4 linked regions of the Homo sapiens genome follow. The protein of the gene in region 4 interacts with the protein of the main gene of each other region in a pairwise test. Each region holds a gene or a part of one and is shown on either strand. Other genes may lie near its edges. The genes, in order: GULP1, ARMC1, TEX28 and EPS8.

What was found.
Region 1: the proteins of EPS8 (region 4) and GULP1 interact in a two-hybrid assay, tested with the Homo sapiens proteins (one large-scale study listed by BioGRID and IntAct).
Region 2: the proteins of EPS8 (region 4) and ARMC1 interact in a two-hybrid assay, tested with the Homo sapiens proteins (one large-scale study listed by BioGRID and IntAct).
Region 3: the proteins of EPS8 (region 4) and TEX28 interact in a two-hybrid assay, tested with the Homo sapiens proteins (one large-scale study listed by BioGRID and IntAct).

Annotation. Positions count from the first base shown.
Region 1 is NC_000002.12:188,588,787-188,592,383, reverse strand, and holds part of GULP1 (PTB domain-containing engulfment adapter protein 1), read right to left. Parts: exon of another isoform or gene 2,645-3,597; coding exon of another isoform or gene 2,634-2,644; intron 1-2,633. UniProt on the Homo sapiens protein: May function as an adapter protein. Required for efficient phagocytosis of apoptotic cells. Modulates cellular glycosphingolipid and cholesterol transport. May play a role in the internalization and endosomal trafficking of various LRP1 ligands, such as PSAP.
Region 2 is NC_000008.11:65,613,678-65,617,177, forward strand, and holds part of ARMC1 (armadillo repeat-containing protein 1), read right to left. Parts: intron 1-3,500.
Region 3 is NC_000023.11:154,285,125-154,288,721, reverse strand, and holds part of TEX28 (testis-specific protein TEX28), read left to right. Parts: intron 1-314; coding exon 315-1,042; intron 1,043-3,597.
Region 4 is NC_000012.12:15,622,481-15,625,454, forward strand, and holds part of EPS8 (epidermal growth factor receptor kinase substrate 8), read right to left. Parts: intron 1,928-2,974; coding exon 1,747-1,927; intron 808-1,746; coding exon 678-807; intron 1-677. UniProt on the Homo sapiens protein: Signaling adapter that controls various cellular protrusions by regulating actin cytoskeleton dynamics and architecture. Depending on its association with other signal transducers, can regulate different processes.

The sequences.
Region 1 (3,597 bases), on a different chromosome or scaffold from region 4:
CTTTAAAATTATTTTATTTGGATATCTGAAGATCTGTATATTATGTCATCTTCTGGTATATTACAAATGGTAAATAGATGATACATTGATAGATAATGACAGATAGAAAGAGAGTTACATGTGGAAATGTTTGATACCATACGGTACTTTTAAATTTTATCAGTTCATTCTGCTAGTAAACCAGTATCACTTCAATTACCCTGAAAATACTATTTGTCAATGTGTTATCAATATTGGAAAAGCAGAATAGCAGCCAAAGTAAAACAGAGGTCAATCACTATTTTAATAATAAAGTGTTAGTATATGACTTACAATAATATCTATCTCCATATTGACTTTTTAAGGATCCTTACATATTATAAGGTTTCTTGATTTTCTTTCTTCCTCAGATAAAATTTCCCACACCTGTTGAGCTTCAAACTTCTTAATAAAAATGAGACTTTATTTACTTATGTAGTGATGGGAATTATCATAAGCTAACGTCACACAAAAGAATGATTAAATAATTAAAGTATTATTCACCATATGCTTTTTATACGAAAGATTTTGATGAATTTTCTTATTTTGAAATAGAAAAGCATATCAAGGAAAGAAAAATCACTACATTTTGAGGTATGTCTTTTTTTCTATCTATACATTTTTAAAAATGATTTTAATGATAATATGAATATATATTTATGCCATATAATTTTCTTATGTAAGTAATATATTACATATAGTTTTCTATCTTCCTCTTTTCATCTTTGCAGACCCTGATTATTTTAAATTCCCACAAAACTAATTTATTATGACTATATAAAATGCTATTAATTTTTATGATTGTTTCCATCGTAAAAATGCATTTTACGTTGATTTGAAAAAAAATCGTTCAGCATTTTAAAATTATGAATAATGTTGACTAGGTATTTTTATTCGCAGAGATTGAACACATTCATACTTATTTTTTCATCAGAATAGATTGCTTTAAAGTTTTGATATCAAACAGAAATAAAAGTATTAATAACAAGCTACCCTTTAAAGAGACTGCTAGGCCATAGTTACCTCTGAACTAACTCTGGACTGCCAACAATTTACAGTGCTTGTTTTATCACACTTTCAGTTGTATTGATTGATTATTAGTTTAAAAAATAATCTGCTAGATTAAAATAGCATTACAGTTCTTTATTTGATTTATATGTTTACTTTGATTAGACAGAACATGTCTACATATGTGTAAGCCACTTGTGGTCTTCTTTTGTGAACTAGTGCTTTTTTATTTATCTGTTGATTCTTTAGTTTCCTAGCCATTTGTCTAATTGCTTTAATTATGTATATGTAATGTATTTATATATTTTTAGACAGTAAATTTTAAAAAATTGGATACTATATGTCCGTATTTTTCTTTTCCTTATAAAATTTTCTTTTCAATTCAAAAGTCTGATGAATATTCAATAATATTTTAAATATTTTAAAATGTTGATTACTTCTGAAATTTATCTCGGCATTTGCTGTAAGTTTCAGCAGTACATTGATCTTCTCCCAGAGTACTAGCTAGCTGACTTAACACCACTCATACATGATTCTTTCATCATTCATGAACTTGCCATGCTTGTTTTTTAATGTATTAAATTATTATAGCTCACATGTTACAGTGTGGGCTATCAATACTATTCCACTTATTTTCCTGTTGGTGACATGTACTGGACAGTTTAAATTATGTCAAATCAAATAGCTACATTATTGATTTCAAATAGATGTTTAATTTTCTAACTGCTTATACTGAAATATGGTCTAACATTTCTGCATAAATGCTTACATGCATGAGATGTTTCTGTGATTTCAAACTTAATAATTCGATTCTCTTAAAAATAGCTTAGTCACAATACTCTGTAAATGAAAGATGAAAACTAAATGTCTCACTAGGCTTATTAACTCAATATGGTGTTCACAACCCATTGTACTATATTAAGTTTTTATATGATATGCAAAGATAGCTAAATGTCTGCATTAGATTCATTAGGCTAGCACGATTAATAATAAAAGCCATCATAGACTTTAGATGAAGAAAATATTATTTTACTTTTGTTAAAGTGACCTTGCAAGTAAATATTGGACTAAAAGAAACAATCATGGCCAAGTATGGTGGCTCATGCCTGTGGTCCAAGCACTTTGGGAGGTCTAAGTGGGTAGATCGCTTGAGCCCAGCAGTTCAAGCCCAGTCTGGACAACATGATGAAACCCTGTTTTTAACAAAAAATACAAAAATTAGCCACGCGTGGTAGTGCACACTTGTAGTCTCAGCTACTCAGGAAGCTGAGGAGGGAAGATTGCTTGAGCCCGGGCGGTGGAGGTTGCAGTGAGCCAAGATCATGCCACTGCACTCCAGCTTGGGTAGGGCGATAGAGTGAGACTCTGCCTCAAAAAAAAAAAGAAAAGAAAGGAAACAATGAAGTGAACAATGCAATAGTGACTAAGTCACTGAAAAATAATCTTAAAATGTGGTTTATAAAACCTCTCTAAACATAACTAATTATCAGATATACCCATATGAAGCTGTTGTTTGAATTTTTATTAAATAAGGCATGCAAATTTTAAGGTTTCAGCTTTAAAAATTTGTAAGTTGTTTAAAATTATTATAAAAATAATATACCAACCATCTCTGGCGCTACCCACCATGAAAGCAGTAAAGAATTTAAAAAGACATTAAGAAAATATTAGAAACAGCAAAAGCAAAAACACCACGGTTTAACATTGAGTGTCACCATCACTCAATCATCCCAATACATTGTGTCTCACACTTGGTTTCAACAAAATCTGGAAATAGAGGCTTATCCTTAAAACTCCATAATTTTTTTTCCAATTTTGGGAAAATCTAAAAAATTTTTAGAGAAGTACTCTGTATGACCTGTGCAACCCTTGAGAATAAATACTACCACATAAATATTTCTTTGTTACTACAAAAGCATTAGTACCAGATAGTACATGTCCAATGGGTAAAACTAATGTAAAAGAAAAGGAATTGATTTCATATGAAATACAGCATTCTTGCTAAATTATCATGCGCCATTTGAAAGTTTCATAGCGTTTGAAATATAGAAAAGAACTAGGAAATCTGTGCCATCAGATAGAATACATGTTGAAATCAATAGAAATTTGATAAGGTGGTTTTAGCTTTAACCAAATAAGATCATCCGTCCTGTATTGGTGTTGCAATTTGGCTTTCATTTAATTTATAATTTATTGAATTCATAATTTTATAAAAACCATAAGGACAAGTTGTTTATAACATTTTTGTCAATATTTAAAAATTGTAAGTTAATACTAAGGATCTAAAACAATTTTTATGTAAAAGGGGATTAAGAATCATTCAACTTGAGAAACACTGTTTTAATAGATTCTTTGAAAACCTCAAGACATATGTTAAGTAATTCAACTTTTAAATTCAGGCATGTTATTACATCTAGAACAATAATGAATTCATGTACTACCTAGAAAATAAGATAGCTACACAGCTGCAGTCAAAAATGAGTAAAAGGGCATTTAAATTAACTTTCTAAGAAGGATTGCAATTATCAGTGATAGATCAGTGTTCACCCATAATTGTTTTTTCTAGGAAGT
Region 2 (3,500 bases), on a different chromosome or scaffold from region 4:
ACATTTGGCCAGGCACAGTGGCTCATGCCTGTAAACCCAGCACTTTGGGAGGCCAAGGCAGGTGGATCACTTGAGGTCAGGAGTTCAAGCCTGACCAACATACTGAAACCCCATCTCTACTAAAATACAAAAATTAGCTGGGTGTGGTGGCGCATGCCTGTAATCCCAGCTACTCAGGAGTCTGAGAGAGGAGAATCACTTGAACCCGGGAGGCAGAAGTTGCAGCAAGCTCAGATCACACCACTGGGCTCCAGCCTGGGTGACAGAGGGAGACTCCATCTCAAAAAAAAAAAAAACCACACGTTTAATAAAAATAATCAAATACAAAATCAACTAACAAGATCAGGTTGTAACATGTTCCTGTATTATCACTAACATTCAACTCTCAATTTGAAAGTACCTTGACTTTTAAGAAAATACAACATATAAAAATCCAAAAGGAGAAACCAAATTTGAAAAGGATCATTCATACTATCAACTAATTTCAAGATTTCTTTGTATGTTAAAACCAATTTTTTAATTTACATTTTTTACATATTACAAATTATGTGTTTATCATAAAACCACAGCTCTAACAAAAGTTTTCATTCTTAAGCTTTTAAATCCTACTACAGATCCTCACATCAACATCTAGGGGACTGTGCTGTCCAATAATCTTTCTGCAATGATAGAAATGTTCTATAGCTGCACTCTCCACTCACATGAGGCTACTGAGCACTTGAAATGTGGCTAGTGCAACTAAAAAAAATTAATTTACCTTTAATTAATTTAAATTGCCAAACAGAGTGAGTGGCTAACCATACTGGACAGCACAGTCTAATGGCTCTTATTAGTGGAACTGAACAAAGAGTAAGTACATGTAACTGTAAGAAAAGAATCCTCATTTCACCTATCAATGGGCTCAACTAAGTCCAAACCCTTTAATGTACACTCAAGGCCTTAAAATCTGGCCCCATTTGGCTATCTCCATCAGCTCATTTTGTCCTTCTATTATTCTTTGGGTTGACTATGACACTTGGCCATCTCCTACAAAGACCATGCATTTTTATATGTTCTTTGTTCTAGAATGCTTTCTACCCTTAAGTTTTGTTCAGGTCTTTCCTTAGCTGGAAGAGCTTCACCCAGACTGCAGGCTTTCCAACTCTTATTTCAATGCTTGAAGGGTCAGCTTGACCAACACCTTCTATATAATGCCTCTACCTAATAACCCAATTCTCCCTTTGCATTCAGAGTACTATGCTTGTACTTATACTACTGATCTTAATTTTCTATTTCTTTTATAAGTATATGAACTCTTTAAGAGGAGGAAGGTATCCTTTTTGTACCTTCCATAGAACCTAACAAAAATGTTTGCAAGTTATTTAGTGAATGAGTAGGAATACTTCAATTTCTGATACTCAGATTGTATATGTTCTAGCTACTTAGAGCTTTAATTCCAGGGGTGATAATCTGACAGTATTCCAGACACTCAATTACTATATCAAGTGCTTTTCTGAGCCACTGTTGACCACAGAGATAAGTTACTTTGGGTGACTTTAGCCGTGTGTTACAGAAAGCTATCAAAAGGACTAATTTGTATTAGTTGCCTCAGCATTTTTATTGATAGCTATTTTAGAGTTTATTGAAAAGTCACTGCAGTTCTCAGATATTTTAAATATTAACCAAGAACAAGTTATAAAGAGCATGAAGAGACAATGATTAGAGAAACTTACGAACTTAAGTTAAAAAAAAAAAAAAAAAAACAGGGCCGGGTACAGTGGCTCATGCCTGTAATTCCAACACTTTGTGAGGCTGAGGTGGGTGGATCACCTGAGGTTAGGAGTTCGAGCCCAGCCTGGCCAACATGGCGAAACCCCGTCTCTACTAAAAAAGCACAAAAACTAGCTGGGCGTGGTGGCAGGTGTCTATAATCCCAGCTACTCAGGGGGCTGAGGCAGGAGAATCACTTGGACCTGGGAGATGGAGGTTGCAGCGAGCCAAGATCCTACGACTGCACGCCAGCCTGGGTGACAGAATGAGGCTCCCTCTTAAAAAGAAAAAATGAATAAATAAAATAAAATAAAATAAAGTAGCCAGGTGTGGTGGTGGGTGCCTGTAATCCCAGCTACTCAGGCGGTGGAGGCAGGAGAATCACTTGAACCCAGGAGGCGGAGGTTGCAGTGGGCCGAGATCATGCCATTGCACTCCAGCGTGGGCAACAAGAGCAAGACTCCGTCACAAAAAAAAAAGAAGAAAGAAAAACTGTATTATTGTTACTCCTTTCCATTGTCAATAGTTTTGCATCAACTAGAAAATGAATCATAACACATAATAAAACATCCAATAACTGTCATACATTTTTTGAAAACCTGGATTATTTCAAAACTGTTTAATATGCTTAATGAAGCAATAGTGACAAAAAATATTAAAATACTAAAACATAAATTATCTTTCTGTTTTGCATAAAAACTGTAACAGTAATTCCCTCTCCCCTCTCCCCTCTTCCCGGTCTCCCTCTGATGCCGAGCGGAAGCTGGACTGTACTGCTGCCATCTCGGCTCACTACAACCTCCCTGCCTGATTCTCCTGCCTCAGCCTGCCGAGTGCCTGCGATTGCAGGCACGCGCTGCCACGCCTGACTGGTTTTCGTATTTTTTTGGTGGAGAGGGGGTTTCGCTGTGTTGGCCGGGCTGGTCTCCAGCTCCTAACCACGAGTGATCTGCCAGCCTCGGCCTCCCGAGGTGCCGGGATGGCAGACGGAGTCTGGTTCACTCAGTGCTCAATGGTGCCCAGGCTGGAGTGCAGTGGCGTAATCTCGGCTGGCTACAACCTCCACCTCCCAGCCGCCTGCCTTGGCCTCCCAAAGTGCCGAGATTGCAGCCTCTGCCCGGCCGCCACCCCGTCTGGGAAGTGAGGAGCGTCTCTGCCTGGCCGCCCATCGTCTGGGATGTGAGGAGTGCCTCTGCCCGGCTGCCCAGTCTGGGAAGTGAGGAGCGCCTCTTCCCGGCCGCCATCACGTCTAGGAAGTGAGGAGCGTCTCTGCCCGGCCACCCATAGTCTGAGATGTGGGGAGCGCCTCTGCCCCGCCGCCCCGTCTGGGATGTGAGGAGCGCCTCTGCCCAGCCGCGACCCCGTCTGGGAGGTGAGGAGCGTCTCTGCCCGGCCGCCCTGTCTGAGAAGTGAGGAGCCCCTCCACCCGGCAGCCGCCCTGTCTGAGAAGTGAGGAGCCCCTCCGCCCGGCAGCCGCCCCGTCTGAGAAGTGAGGAGCCCCTCCGCCCGGCAGCTGCCCCGTCTGGGAAGTGAGGAGCGTCTCCGCCCGGCAGCCGCCCCATCCAGGAGGGAGGCGGGGGGCAGCCCCCGCCCGGCCAGCCACCCCGTCCGGGAGGTGGGGGGCGCTTCTGCCCAGCCGCCCCTTCTGGGAAGTGAGGAGCCCCTCTGCCCGGCGGCCACCCTGTCTGGGAGGTGTACCCAACAGCTCATTGAGAACGGGCCATGATGACGATGGCGGTTTTGTCGAATAG
Region 3 (3,597 bases), on a different chromosome or scaffold from region 4:
GGTAATTTTTGGAAGAGAAAATAGGAGTGCAGTGCAAAAACAGGCAGATGTAGAAGGGAGTCTGGCCACCTGTGGGTCTTAGTGAGGCACACATGTAGAGCAAGGAGTCAGACGCTGAAAAGGAGGGGAGAGGGGCCCTGAAGATGAGCATCACCTCCTCAGTCTGTGTCGGGCCCATCTTGAATGCACAAATCTTGCGTGTGTAAGTATCCATGCATATGTGGAAGTGTTTTATGGAGTCATAACGTGTCCAATTCTCCCACACTTTGCGGCTCACAGAGCACCGTATTGTGATTTCTTGTTTCCCAACGTAGGCGGAACACACCAGGAGCCCCAGCGCAACCCTCCCCTCCAATGTGCCTTCATGCCGGTCCCTGTCATCCAGCGAAGACGGCCCCAGTGGCCCTTCCAGCCTCGCAGATGGAGGCCTAGCCCACAACTTACAGGATAGTGTCAGGCACCGCATCCTCTACCTCTCAGAGCAGCTGAGAGTGGAGAAGGCCAGTCGGGATGGCAACACTGTGAGCTACCTCAAGCTGGTATCCAAAGCAGACCGGCACCAGGTGCCGCACATCCAGCAGGCCTTTGAGAAGGTGAACCAGCGCGCCTCTGCCACCATCGCCCAGATCGAGCACAGGCTCCACCAGTGTCACCAGCAGCTCCAGGAGCTGGAGGAAGGCTGCAGGCCCGAGGGCTTACTGCTGATGGCAGAAAGCGACCCAGCCAACTGCGAGCCACCCAGTGAGAAGGCCCTGCTTTCAGAGCCCCCCGAGCCAGGTGGGGAAGACGGGCCGGTCAACCTGCCTCATGCCAGCAGGCCCTTCATCTTGGAGAGTCGCTTCCAGAGCTTACAGCAGGGGACGTGCTTAGAGACAGAGGATGTGGCCCAGCAACAAAACCTGCTGTTGCAGAAGGTAAAGGCAGAGCTGGAAGAAGCCAAGAGGTTCCACATCAGCCTCCAGGAGTCCTATCACAGCCTAAAGGAGAGGTCTCTGACTGACCTGCAGCTGTTGCTGGAGTCCCTTCAGGAGGAGAAGTGTAGGTGAGGCCTTGGCTCTGGGGACTGGAAGCAGAGGAGGAACCGCTCCCAGGAGCCACCTATGGGAGGGTGAAAGGGAGCCAGGACAGGAGCCTGGAGAGCCAGGGTGAGGGGCCAGTTGGAAGAGCAGGTCCATGCTTCTTTTAGCGACTGGGCCCTGCAGTGGGGCGAGCCAGCCCTCTCCCTGCAGTCCCACACCTGCCTTGACCCTTGCTAGCGAAAATGCTCCAGCTTGGCAGCCCCTGCCGGGTGGTTGCAGCGGCATAGCGGCTGGCCCTGACCCTGTGGTGGCAGGGGACAACATGGGGGTGGCAAGAGTCCGGTAGACACCTGGCACTAGTTAGGGAGGTGGCGTCCTTTGGTCCCAGTCGGCTGGGAAGGTGGGAGTCAGGACCGGAGTCGCCTCGCCAGCTCTGGTCTCTTCACATGTGCTCCTAGCTGAGCTGGGGCACAGGCCGGGTCTCAGATACTTATTTCAAAAATGACTGCCTTCTGGTGAATGCTTTCTCCGCACCGTGCAGTAGCTCGATTTTCTTTTTCTTTTTTTTCTTTTGAGATGGAGTCTCACTCTGTCGCCAGACTGGAGTGCAGTGGCACGATCTCGGCCCACTGCAACCTCCACCTCCCGGGTTCAAGCGATTCTCCTGCCTCAGCCTCCCGAGTAGCTGGGAATACAGGCGTGCACCAGCACATCCGGCTATTTTTTGTATTTTTAGTACAGGCGGGGTTTCACCATGTTGACCAGGATGGTCTCAATCTATTGACCTCGTGATCCGCCTGCCTCAGCCTCCCAGAGTGCCGGGATTACTGGTGTGAGCCACCTCACCCTGCCCTAGCTCGATTTTCTTTCCCTCTAAGATAAGGCTAGGGCCTACCAATTGGAGGAAAAAAAAAAAAAAAAAAAAAAAGGCAAACCCAATCTCTCAACGGATTCTCTCCATTCCTATTGGGACCGTTCTCTGGGTTTCCATGGGCCCTCAGGGGGTGCCACATTCTGTCCCCCTCGCTGCAGTCTGTGGCTAATTAACGCCAGTCCCTCCAGCGTCCTGGCTAGGGAGGCAGCGATTCCCTTAGGTGAGCCAAGATTCTCAGCATTTGCATGAAAAGAAGAACTCCGCAGTCCTTTTAGTGCCTGATGCAGGGGAAGCGGCGTGTGGGAATCATCCTCTTTAGTTTCCCCAGGGAAATCTTGCCAGCGTTTACATGGCCTAAGAATCTGTTAAAGGACAATCAAAGAATATTACAGGGCAACCACTGTCAATGAGATGACTAGTCAGAGTCACAGGCGTCTCTTGCAGATTATTTTCATAGGACATGGCAACCAAATCTAAAATCTTGGGAGCATCAAAGACCCTTTTGTGAAAATCACACTTACCCGGTCAGCTTTCTATTAAGCAACAGCAGAACTTGGTGGCAGTTACAAACTTCCCCGTATGTTTCCAAGCCACAGGGGCCAATGAGAATGCTGTGCTCAGGTAAACTCTTAACCCCTCTCAAATCCGAGTCTTTCGCCCGCTCTTGATACAGCGGTGACTACCGGGGAGCAGGGCAATACCTCTGTCTCTCCCCCTCTCAGACTTTTGCTGCAAATTCTAGAAGCCTGCACTTCTGACCCGGTACCCCCCATTGGACTGTGACATGGGATGTCTGGTTGTTTGCTGCAGCAGCGAGCCTACCCTTACTAATGTTCATCGTGAGCAGAAAAGCAGGTCTACAGGGCCCAAGCAGGTCTACAGGAGGAGAAAGGGCTGCTGATGATTTTTCACTGTTGTCACGGGCTCGTAACTGAGCTGGGGCACCAGGTTAAGCAGCCTTGTTCTTTGGCCCTCAGACGCCTACTTTATGGTTGGGGAAGCAGAGTCTCACGGAGGCACAAGCAGGCTACGTGGCTGCTAAGTGCGGACCTGAGAGCATTTCACCACACCCTGGCTGTGTGGCTAAGTTAGATGCAGGGGACACAGGAGTTCATGGCATTTTAAAAACATATACTTCCGTAAAATCTTCTTCAAAACTTTTACATGATCTGGACACAGAAGTGTTTCAACCAGCCAGGCTCCCTGTGACTGTTGCGTCCCCTCTGGTGCATCACAAACTGAGAATCCATACTGCAAGTCCTGTGCTGTTTATCACAGTTAAATCCGTTTGCTTTCAGGAGGGCTGTTGTGGTTTTTATCATTATGGTTTCTTTTTAATTTGGTCTCGGCATGTCTCTACTGAGAGTGGCCATAGCCGAGATACCCAGTTTCTAGGAGATCCCTGACCCGTGGGAAAGTTAGGTTCGGATGTGTGTGTCAGGGGAGCCACAGTGAGGAGGCAGACGAAAATGCATGAAACAGCAGAAATGGGCTGGGCGTGGGGGCTCACGCCTGTAATCCTAGCACTTTGGGAGGTTGAGGTGGGCAGACTGCTTGAGCTCAGGAGTTTGAGACCAGCCTGGGCAACATAGTGAGACCCGGTATCTACAAAAACATCAAAAAATTAGCTGGGCGTGATGGCGCGTGCCTGTAGTCACAGCTACTCAGGAGGCTGAGCGGGAGCGGGGATCCCTTGAGCCCGGG
Region 4 (2,974 bases):
TGAGTCCAAGTATAATTTTCATGAAACTATTAAGAGCTGTGAGATGTAACAGTTGGAAACTACTACCCGTATATAGCACATTTTAAGTCTAAAATAGGATATTGGAAGCTTAAGTATAAAGCAATCTAGAAAACATGACTCTCCTGCTTTCATACAGACCATTGTGATTAAATACTTTTCCAGGCTCTCTATTTTCAGTGATCTCTACCTAATGTATCTTTCCCGATTATTGAGATGTATTACTAGACCTAACACACACAGCCAGGGTTTTACAATCTTATAACCTATACGTTATTAGAATCTCCAAAAAAAAAAAAATATTAAGAATAGGCAAGGATTCTGGCCTCTTAAGGCTCTTACTCACTCAGAAGCTAATTTCCATTGTTATGTCAAAATTAAATTTCCTATAGAATTAGTCAATACATATAAAATGAGAACATTATGCTTTTTGTCAAGTTTCCAAAAGTATGTGCTCAAGCTTCACATCATATGAGCATTTATAACAAATTAACCTTCTGGAAACTGTCATTGATGATCTCAGTGACAAATTTACAAAAGCAGAGTTAAATTTAATTCAGCTCTGTTAAGAAAGGGAAATTGGCCAATATGGACATAAATAGTTGTTTCCAGAGCTTTCAATTTGCAGAAAAACACCACCTTAGGTTGACAAGTCATACCTCCAATGCAGCTTTTTGTACAGTGATTTGGCTATAGACTCTCGCCCCTTCAGGGCAGACTGTCCTCAGTTCATCCTTATTGAGAGAGAAAAGTTGTGCACCATTTAATACTCCAAGACTATTGACAGTCCTAAAAAAAAAAAAAGGAAAAAGAAACTGAGCATTAAAAATATTGCCTACAAACAAAGGAGAAAATTATCTGTTCCTGCTAGTAACTTCTCTTTTCTAAGCGTTCCATACCCTGGAACCCTTATTAAATGCCACTACAGTCTTTATAGTTAGGGCAATGACAAGTTTCTTTCATGATGATGACCCTGAGGCTATACAGATTATTAATTACAAAGTATCAAAAATGAGCCAATTCGGTTTAGGGTCATTGTTTAATACCAATTCTTGGGATTTGGTGTTTTATAGAAGGAATAGATAACTTTCTAGTAACCTGGCAATTGACTAACCATTGTATCTCATTTTTCAATCATGCTGGGTAGGTGAGTTTATAATATGTCAAGGTCCCTTGAATATGTATTATTCTAATAGTTCATTGTGCCAAATACATATGAAATGTTTATAGACTTTTAGATAGATAAATAGAACCTTTACTATGGGTTTATTAAAGGAAAAGTTCTATTAAGATTATAATTGATGCTAGGTAACACTATTTTTTATTTGCCAGAGACACTATATCCTGCAGCAGGAGGAAAGCTTATGCTCTATGTCCTATGTGGTCTAGGAAGTTCAGCTAAGACCATGGTCCTACCTAGGTTACATCACAGTAATCTGATGGAGAAAAGAAGCTACTGGGCCTCAAAGCTGCCAATAGTTTGCTTAAAGAACTAATAATGAACAGATACTACCAATTCGAAAATGGGGTGGCATCAGAATAATTATTTATGCTTATTTTAGTTCTTTTTCAGCTATGAACAGCTATAGTGAGTTCTTGAGTATGGCACAAAGTATGCAGTCTGTGCCCTTATGTTTTATAACAGTTATCTGTGACATCTAACTAAGCAAATTGAAAACAATGCATGTTGTACACACAGAATTGCAAAGTATTCACAGAGAGACTCACACAGGGTTGAATCCCTTTGACTGTAACCACGTCTTCACATCCTCTGGTGTGGAGTCGTAAGTGATATTGATAACTGGCACGTTCTGCCGTGGCACATGGAATTTCTTCTGAGCGGCACTCCGACCAATGGTCAGTCTGTGGATGAGTTCATCTTGCACTTCCTCCATCTGAGATTTCCTTCCTAGACACCAACAGGGAGTAGGTTCTTTTTGAAAATCCCTAATATTACATCACCCTCTCTAGAACCCCAATCTCTATAATCCTTGACCCCAGTAGGACCTACAGTCTAGTGTTCCTACCATCTTTCCTCACTTTTATCCTCGCCTGGTATAAATGCCATGATCAATTATTAAAATAACTCCCTGGCTCTTCTCTAGTCTCTTCATTGTACTCCTTTGGCAAAACCCCAATCCTGGTTAAACCTAACTTTCTGCGTATTCTGTGCCTGCACCTGCACAGCTGAATATAACACAACAATGCTGAATGATCTCATGTTAAATTCATGATTATGAACCTTAACTTGGCTGTTAATGCTTCCTGACAATTATACTACATTTCCTTAGACTGGTGGCTCTCAACTGGGGACAGTTTTGGCCCCAGAGGACATTTGGGAATATCTGGAGACACTTTTGGTCGTCACAATTGAGGGAGAAAAAGGGGAAAGGCTGCTGCTGTCACACAGTGGGTAGAAGCCTGGGATGCACACAACATTCTATAATGTCAGCCTCTCCTACAGCAGAGAATAACCCAGCCTCAAAGGCCAAGAAGTCCTGCCTAAGGTCATGTAACTGCCCACTGTCTTAGACAAGTATTGAATATATTCTACTTTCTCTCTACAAACTTCTAACCCTATTCCCCAATCCTCACCTTGAGCTGATCTCATTTCCTAATTTATGAATAAAATAGTTAGAAGAAAACCTCCGTAAGTTCCTCTAGTAGTTCTTCCTAACAGCACTTTCCCCATATGTTCTGCCTGCCTTCCTATTATGTTATATAAGAGCTGTTTCCCTGCTCCCAAGGCTAACTATCCATGTATGCACTAGGCCTCAAGTTCTCTGCCTATTCAAATACTGAGTCATTTCTCCCTTATTTATCCTGTTATTAATTTTCCTTCTTCACTGAATCAGTTCATCAGCCTGCAAACATGCTATTATTTTATGATTTCTGTTACCTTTAAACAAGTCCTTTTTACCATGTCCTTTCCCAGCTACTGCCCATTTTTCTGCTC